Linked DNA regions of Homo sapiens. The protein of the gene in region 1 purifies or fractionates together with the protein of each later gene. This does not show direct contact. Each region holds a gene or a part of one and is shown on either strand. Other genes may lie near its edges.

What was found. The genes of interacting proteins can lie anywhere in the genome.
Region 2: the proteins of SERPINA6 (region 1) and COL4A2 purify together in Homo sapiens (affinity purification with mass spectrometry, with the first as the bait; one large-scale study listed by BioGRID). This does not show direct contact.

What each region holds. Positions count from the first base shown.
Region 1 is NC_000014.9:94,320,537-94,324,808, forward strand, and holds the start of SERPINA6 (corticosteroid-binding globulin precursor), read right to left. Parts: upstream 2,801-4,272; 5' UTR 2,731-2,800; intron 1-2,730. UniProt on the Homo sapiens protein: Major transport protein for glucocorticoids and progestins in the blood of almost all vertebrate species.
Region 2 is NC_000013.11:110,485,284-110,488,783, forward strand, and holds part of COL4A2 (collagen alpha-2(IV) chain preproprotein), read left to right. Parts: intron 1-371; coding exon 372-553; intron 554-3,500. UniProt on the Homo sapiens protein: Type IV collagen is the major structural component of glomerular basement membranes (GBM), forming a 'chicken-wire' meshwork together with laminins, proteoglycans and entactin/nidogen.

The DNA.
Region 1 (4,272 bases):
TGGTTTAGGGTGCTGTGTGATTCATGAATTGTTTCTTTGCTCAAATAAACTCTGCTACGTTTAATTTGTCTAAAGTTTTCTTTTAACAGGTGCGCTCCGAGCGTGGGAACCACTGTTCTGCTCTGGAATTCCCTAGAGGCCCCTTCCCTGGTGTGTTCCAAAAGCAGAATCTCAAGAATGACAGGTGGGAACTCCCCCGCAAAACCCTTAGTTCTCCTGAGTCTCCCAAAACCCTCCTTGCGTGTCTCCCTTATCTCACCAGGGTGGAAAACAACCCCTGTTGGCTGCTCTAGCCCCTAGTTCTCTGCTTTAGATAATAGAGGCAGGTGTGACCTGCTCCCCACTCCCCGCACCCAAATGATGGGCTTTATTGAATTCTCCATCGGGTTTCTGACTTGGATTTCTGGGTCCTCGCGACAATTCTTTTGTCGCGAAACCCAGAAAAGATCCTGGGTTTCGTGGCAGATCAAGCTGGATTGGGGCCCTAGCACTGCCATGTATGAATTAGGTGATGTGGGACAGGCTACTTAAACTCTGCCTCAGTTTCCACAGTATAAAATAGAGCTGATAATAACACCTCTAGCCTTACCCATTTTTCTGGTGTTTGTCTATTCTCCAGTGCCTCTGCACAGCCTCCTCATCTCTCTCAGGACTCAGCAGTAGCCCCTACCTCGTCTCCCTGCCTCCTGTTCAACTCCCTCCAGCCCTTTTACCCATCTGCAGCTGCATCTTTTTAAATTCTCAAAAATTCAAGCTGATCGGTTCTGCTTTGAAGTTTTCAGGGACTCCCCATTGCCCACCACAGGGCTGATTCTCACTAATGTAGCCCAGGGGGTCTTTGTGACCCAGTCCCTGGTGACAGTTCTGCCTCCAGCCTCAAATCTGGCCCTTTGGGGTCTCAGCCACAGCAACACTGGGTGCCAGGGGTTCTTCCAGCACACATCAGCCTTTTCTCCCACTGTGGGGCAGGGCAGGGCATGTCACATCACTATAGGGCAGGTTACAGCAAGACAGGTCACTGCAGTTCCCCAGGGCAGGTCATTTTGATTTTTCCATGTTTGCTGAGCCCAGCTCTGGACTGGGAGCAGGGAACAAAGATGGATCTGCCTCAGTCCTGCCTATGTGGCTCCAGTCTGTAGGTCCCTCATCTCCCTGCCTCATCTGGCTCACTCCATCTTGTCCTTTGAGACTCAGGTCCCAGGTCACCGCCTCCAGGAAGCCTTGTATCTGTGCTTCTCTATGGCCTTGCCCCATGACAGGCAGTGAAATCTTTGCTTAGCTTTGGTCACTGCCATACCTATCTGGGATCTCCTCTCAGGCACAGGCCCTGTGCGGTATGATGCCAATGGTAGGATGGGCTCCCCTGCCAGCTCTGGGGAGATTGCATGTCTCACCTTCTCCTGCGTTAATTCTCTAAGATGAGGGTGAAAACTCCATCCACCCCACAATATTGTTGTGAATACCAGACGTGGCTGTTATCAGTGCTTGGCTTATGTGACCTCACTTAATGGGTCATCCTGGGGCCCATTTTACAGATGAGAAAACTGAGATCCAGGGAGACAGAGTAACTCCCCCTGAGCTGGAATTCTAAGCCTAGATGTCTGACATCGGAGCTTGTGCCATGCCATTCTGCCTATCTCTACAGAGAGCAAAATGATGAGTAAAGCAGCTCTTAAGAGTACCCAGCCATGGTCAGGTGTGGTGGCTCATGCCTGTAATCCCAGCACTTTTGGAAGCTGAGGTGGGCAGATCATCTGAGGTCAGGAGTTCGAGACTAGCCTTGCTAACATGGCGAAACCCATTTCTACTAAAAATACAAAAACATTAGCTGGGTGTGATGGTGTGTGCCTGTAATTCCAGCTACTCGGGAGGCTGAGGCTGGAGAATAGCTTGAACCCAGGAGGCAGAGGTTGCAGTGAGCCGAGATCGCACCATTGCACTCCAGCTTGGGCAACAAGAGTGAAATTCCATCTTAAAAAACAAACAAACAAACAAACAAAAAAGTACCCAGCCATATAAAAATGCAGAGTATCAATATTATTCATGCATTTCATGTCAAGTATGCCCTCTTTGTTCCTCATCTCTGAAGAGACTCACTTAGTAAATATTCACTGTGTTCTCTGTTTTCACAAATGCCCTATGAGCCAGGCACAGTTCTTGACCTTCTGTAGTGAAACCTCATGACATGTGGTACAGTGCAGACAGTTCTGTTCTCTGTGCATTATCTCTGCCCCAGGTCACTGAGTGAGGAGCCATGGTGGAGACAGGTCTGCGTGACTCAGAAGAATACCCCTGCACTGGGCCAGCTGAGCCCTCCCAGGCCCTGACCCGCGGCCAGCATCCTTCATCGGTGGTGCCGACTGGAGCAGATGCATTGTAGCTTGCAGGCTGCGACTCTGTGGCTGTTGTGGCTGTTGTGGCTATCTGGCTGGGCTTAGGAGCATCAATCATGGCAGTGGACGAGAATGGTTCTTAGCTACAGCCCTCTGTGTCAGCCCCCTGCATGGCAGGAACCCAGGGGACATCGGAACCCCTGTGGATGACTCACAGACTCCGGGGTCTGGAAAATCCTAACCAGATTGCCTCATAACACTGCTGGCTGCCCTAATGTTCAATGTGCCCTTTAAAAAAACAAAGCATCTCAACAAACCAAACAAGCGAGCTGCAGCCATGGCTTTGCTCTGGAGGCTGGGCAGGGGGAGGGACAGAGGGTTCTCAGGTGTTACTCACAGTCTGCGGTGGGCTCAGGCTGTTTCTGCTGGCTTGGTCCTGCTGTCCTGGACCCTAGCATGTGTACAGTAAGCCTGCGGTGGATGCTGCCTGTTAAATTTTGTTTGCCAGCTTCCTGGGTGGTTAATGGTTAGAGGGGCCAGTGGCCTTCACCGCTTGGTAGTCCTCTCCCCCGAGTCATTAACCAATGGGAGGCTTTGTCAGGATAGCTGAGTAAACACAGAAATGCTGCAAATTAACTTTGCTCTGCGTTCAATTCTATGAAGTCTTTTTTTAATACCAAAATGTGGCTGGAGTTGCATCAATGTGGTTGCCCTGTGTCAGTTGGCAGAGATGTCTTAGGTGCCCTTAATTAGCACCAAGGTGCAGATACTTGTAAAAAGAAAAATAGGTGTTTAGCTCCAATTGGGGATGACTTGGGCAAGGTCCTGCCTTCCAGTGGTCTTAGTCTGGTGGGAGAGACAGACATGGAATAATATCTGCCAAGCGCTTCCTCTGGATTATCTCACGAAATCTTCACAATGACTCTGTGAAGTGGGTACCATTGTCACTCCTCTTTAGATAGGAAACTGAGCTGCATGGAAGTTAAGTTAAACGCCCTTGAGATTCAAATCCAAGGCCATTCAATTCTAAAGTCTAGCACCTTCCCCTTTCCCCACATTTTATTTTTCATCAGTTTTCTTTGGATTACAGGTGACAGACATCAAATTTGAACTGCTTTAAAGCAAAAAGGAATGAATGAGAGGTCCAAGGGTGGAAAGGACTTCAGGCATGGATCTACGGAGTTCTAAATCAGGCATCAGATCTCTCCTTCTCTCTCTCTCTCTGTCTTTTTTTTTTTTTTATTCCTTCCTAGCTCTGCTTTCTTCTACTTTATTCTGTCTGCATTGGGGACAAATGTGGCCACAGTAGCTCTGGGTTATTTAGTTCTAACTGGTTAGTTGATATCAGAAGGAGAGAAATTCTCATTTTTCTCAATGTTCATAACAGTTCCCCCCAAAAGTCTATGGCGTGGTTGCCCCCCTTAGGACTGATTGATCACAGTGTGGAGAAGGATGAGGCATTGTGAATGCCTCGCTAGGGTTCTTTGCTCTCTGTTGGGTTGACAGCATCATTGCTTCCATCCAGAGATGAGGGAATCTCTTCCCAGGGGAAAAGAGGAGAGTAGAGCCTACAAATGGGTCTGCAGTTTTGGAGACACCTTAGTTTTGTAGATGTTTATTGGTCTTTTCAAGTTTCCTATCCTATAAGGCAAGTTTGAACTTTATATCTAGGAATTTATCTATTTCATCTAGATTTTCAAATTAAATACTACAGTTATTCATTAGGCCTCTCCATTATTATTTTTACATTATTATTTTATATCAGTAATTCTTTTTTCTTTTTTTGTTCTGTATTTTGTTTATGTCTTTTCTCCCTTTGATAAGTCCTGTTACAGAGATCTATATAGCTAATTAATCTTTCCAAAGATCCACCTTTTAGTTTTGTTACTGGTTTTTTAAAAAATTGATATTTCATTGATTTCTGTTTATATCTTTATTT
Region 2 (3,500 bases), on another chromosome or scaffold:
GAGGCCGAGGCGGGTGGATCACAAGGTGAGGAGATCAAGACCATCCTGGCTAACACGGTGAAACCCCGTCTCTACTAAAAATACAAAAAAATTAGCCGGCATGGTGGTGGGCGCCTGTAGTCCCAACTACTTAGGAGGCTGAGGCAGGAGAATGGCGTGAACCGGGGAGGCAGAGCTTGTAGTGAGCCGAGATTGCGCCACTGCACTCCAGCCTGGGCGACAGAGCGAGACTCCGTCTCAAAAAAAAAAAAAAAAAAAAAAAAGATTCACAGCACGTAGGACAGCAAAATGCATCCAGGCTGCAAAATTGAAAACTGGAGGGCGGGTGCTGCGTCCTCACCAGAGTGTTACACACCAGGGTCTTCCTGCAGGTATCCAAGGAATGCCAGGCATCCCAGGGCTGTCAGGAATCCCTGGGCTGCCTGGGAGGCCCGGCCACATCAAAGGAGTCAAGGGAGACATCGGAGTCCCCGGCATCCCCGGTTTGCCAGGATTCCCTGGGGTGGCTGGCCCCCCTGGAATTACGGGATTCCCAGGATTCATAGGAAGCCGGGTGAGTGGGCGTCTTTTACTCCCCTTGTTCTGTGAGCTCCTCTCCCCTTTGCTTGTGAATGGACATGCTTTGGTCTGGAATTTGCTAGGGTGAGAGTGTCAGTGGCAGGTTCAGGGCAGCCTCAGGCTTGGTGGGGTCCACACAGCCCTGGAAGGAGCTGCTGCACTTGGACACCATGCAGATGTGATGTGAGTCCAACCGGCTGCCGTGGCCCTTCTGTGGGCTTGTGCTGGGTGAAGCATGTTGTCTGCATTTTTCATGGTGGCCTTGAGAGAACAAAACTTGAATTTTCAGGGATCAGAGCTCTAAAATTGAGCACATCAGTGACACCAGGCCTGAGAGCCCATGGCCGAATCACAGCGTAGACCTGGGCCCGGCAGCCTGGCTTCCCATCCGGGCCACCGTTCACTCAGCCTTTGTTCAGCGGATGTCTGTTGAGCACTTGACATGGGCCAGACACGCTGTTGTGATGGTAACAATGGTGAGCCCTGACCCTGGGCAGGGCTCTCTTCTCCACACCTTCTCCCTCAGCTGCAGAATGAAGGTAGTAGCTACCTTGCAGTTTTCTTGAGTGCTGTATAGACAGTGTGTATAACATAGCACAGCGTGGCTCCCCATAGATTCCGTTTCCTAGAATTCCATTTCTAGCCTCGTTCATATGAAGATAGTGTATTCTCACAGTCCCTAGCACACGGCTGGCCTTCCCAGGGGGATGGGCACATTTGGAGCAGATCAGAAGGTCTGGGCCCCTTGATGTGTTTCAGTCGCGTCCGTGTGAAAAGACCACCAAACAGGCTTTGTGTGAGCAATCAAGCTGTTAATTTCACCTGGGTGCAGGCAGGCTGAGTCTGAAAAGAGAGTCAGCGAAGGGAGATAGGGGTGGGGCCGTTTTATAGGATTTGGGTAGGTAAAGGAAAAAGGGGGGTTGTTCTCTGGCGGGCAGGAGTGGGGGTCACAAGGTGCTCAGTAGGGGAGCTTTTGAGCCAGGCTGAGCCAGGAGAAGGAATTTCACAAGATAATGTCATCAGTTAAGGCAGGAACAGGCCATTTTCACTTCTTTTGTGGTGGAATGTCATCAGTTAAGGCAGAAACCGGCCATCTGGATGTGTACGTGCAGGTCACAGGGGATATGATTGCTTAGCTTGGGCTCAGAGGCCTGACAGTGTGAACCCTTAGTAGCAGGCCAGGGCCTGCCTGTGTGTCTGTCTGGCCCACCTTGGTGTACAGAATTCTTCAGGGGTCTTCCTCCCCTCACTCCCAAAATCTGCAGCTGAGAGTATCTTCTAGCCAGTCTGTGTGTGCTATTCAGGTCACTTTAAAAAAGAAAGATGCCAGCCAGGTGCAGTGGCTCTTGCCTATAATCCCAGCACTTTGGGAGGCCAAGGCAGGCAGATCACTTGTGGTCAGGAGATCGAGACTAGCCTGGCCAACAGGGTGAAACCCCGTCTCTACCAAAAATATAAAAAATTAACCGGGTTTGGTGCTGCGCACTCATAATCCCAGCTACTGGGGAGGCCGAGGCGGAAGAATCGCTGGAACCCAGGAGGCGGAGGTTGCAGTGAGCCGAGATTGCGCCGTTGCACTCCAGCTTGGGTGACAAAGCAAGACTCCATCTCAAAAAAAAGACAAGAAAAAAGAAAGATGCCTGTTTCTGCCAAAGACACCTACAACATCCAAAGGACCTTTATTCATAACAGCTCGAAACTAGGAAACAGCCCAAATGTCCATCAACAGGGAAAAGAATAAATGAACGTGGTATATTCTAACCAGACACAGCATTATCTGTGCATTTTATCTCCATACACAGCAATAAATGAGAATTCTTGGTAAAATCCAACAACCTAACTTCATTTCCAAACTTTATGTTGAACAAAATAAACCAGAAACAGAAAAGTACACGATTCAGTTTCATCGATGTGAAGTTCAAGAACTGACAAGGCTGTTAGATGGGGTATCGGGAGCACAGCTGCTTTAGGTGGGGTTGTCATAGAGTGCTGACAGTGTTCTGTGTCTTTCAGTGACACACGAGTTCAGATGCATTGAGCTGTGCGTTTAAGATGAGTGGACATTACTGTATTTAAGTTTTGCTTCAGAAAAGTAAGCTTTGAGAAAGAAAAATAGAGCATTACCTAAACAAAGGTGCAGCCTGTGGATACCCTCCCCCTTCCTCCCACAAAGGAGCTTTTGTTTTGTTTTGTTTTGTTTTTTGAGACAGAGTCTCACTCTGTCACCCAGGCTGGAGTGCAATGGCATGATCTTAGCTCACTGCAACCACTGCCTCCTGGTTCAAGCGATTCCCCTGCCACAGCCTCCCAAGTAGCTGGGATTACAGGCGCACGCCACCACGCCCAGCTAATTTTGTATTTTTAGTAGAGACAGGGTTTCACCATGTTGGCCAGGCTGGTCTTGAACTCCTGACCTCAGGCAGTCCACCCACCTCGGCCTCCCAAAGTGCTGGGATTCTAGGCCTGAGCCACCACCCCCGGCCTAGCTATATTAATACTGCAGCGACTCATGTTAGGCCATGCTTGTACATTGATGCTGTAGTACTAAAGTCCCAGTGGCACCCAGGTAGACCAGAACTCTCATGCTCCCTCTGGGGAGGAAGCCACTCTGGAGGGGAAAACTAGGGCTTCCAGGAAGCCACCGAGCAACTCAGGCATCTTCTCAATTTCCTTACCAGCCACCTGTGTCTTTCTGGAGAAGTCTCCCTCTGTGCACAGATGGAGGCGCACAGCCCCATATCTGTGTTATAATCTGCAGAGAGCAAGCTCTGCAGTCTGGCTGCCCAAACTGAAATCCCGGTTCTGCCACTTGCTGGCTGAGTGACCTTAAGCAAAACCTTTCTGTGCTTCAGTTCCTTTGCCTGTCATTGGGAAGTAACGGTGCCTGCCTGGCAGGGTTTTCATGAGGCGTGAATACGCTCTTGAGACGGGGTCCACCATGT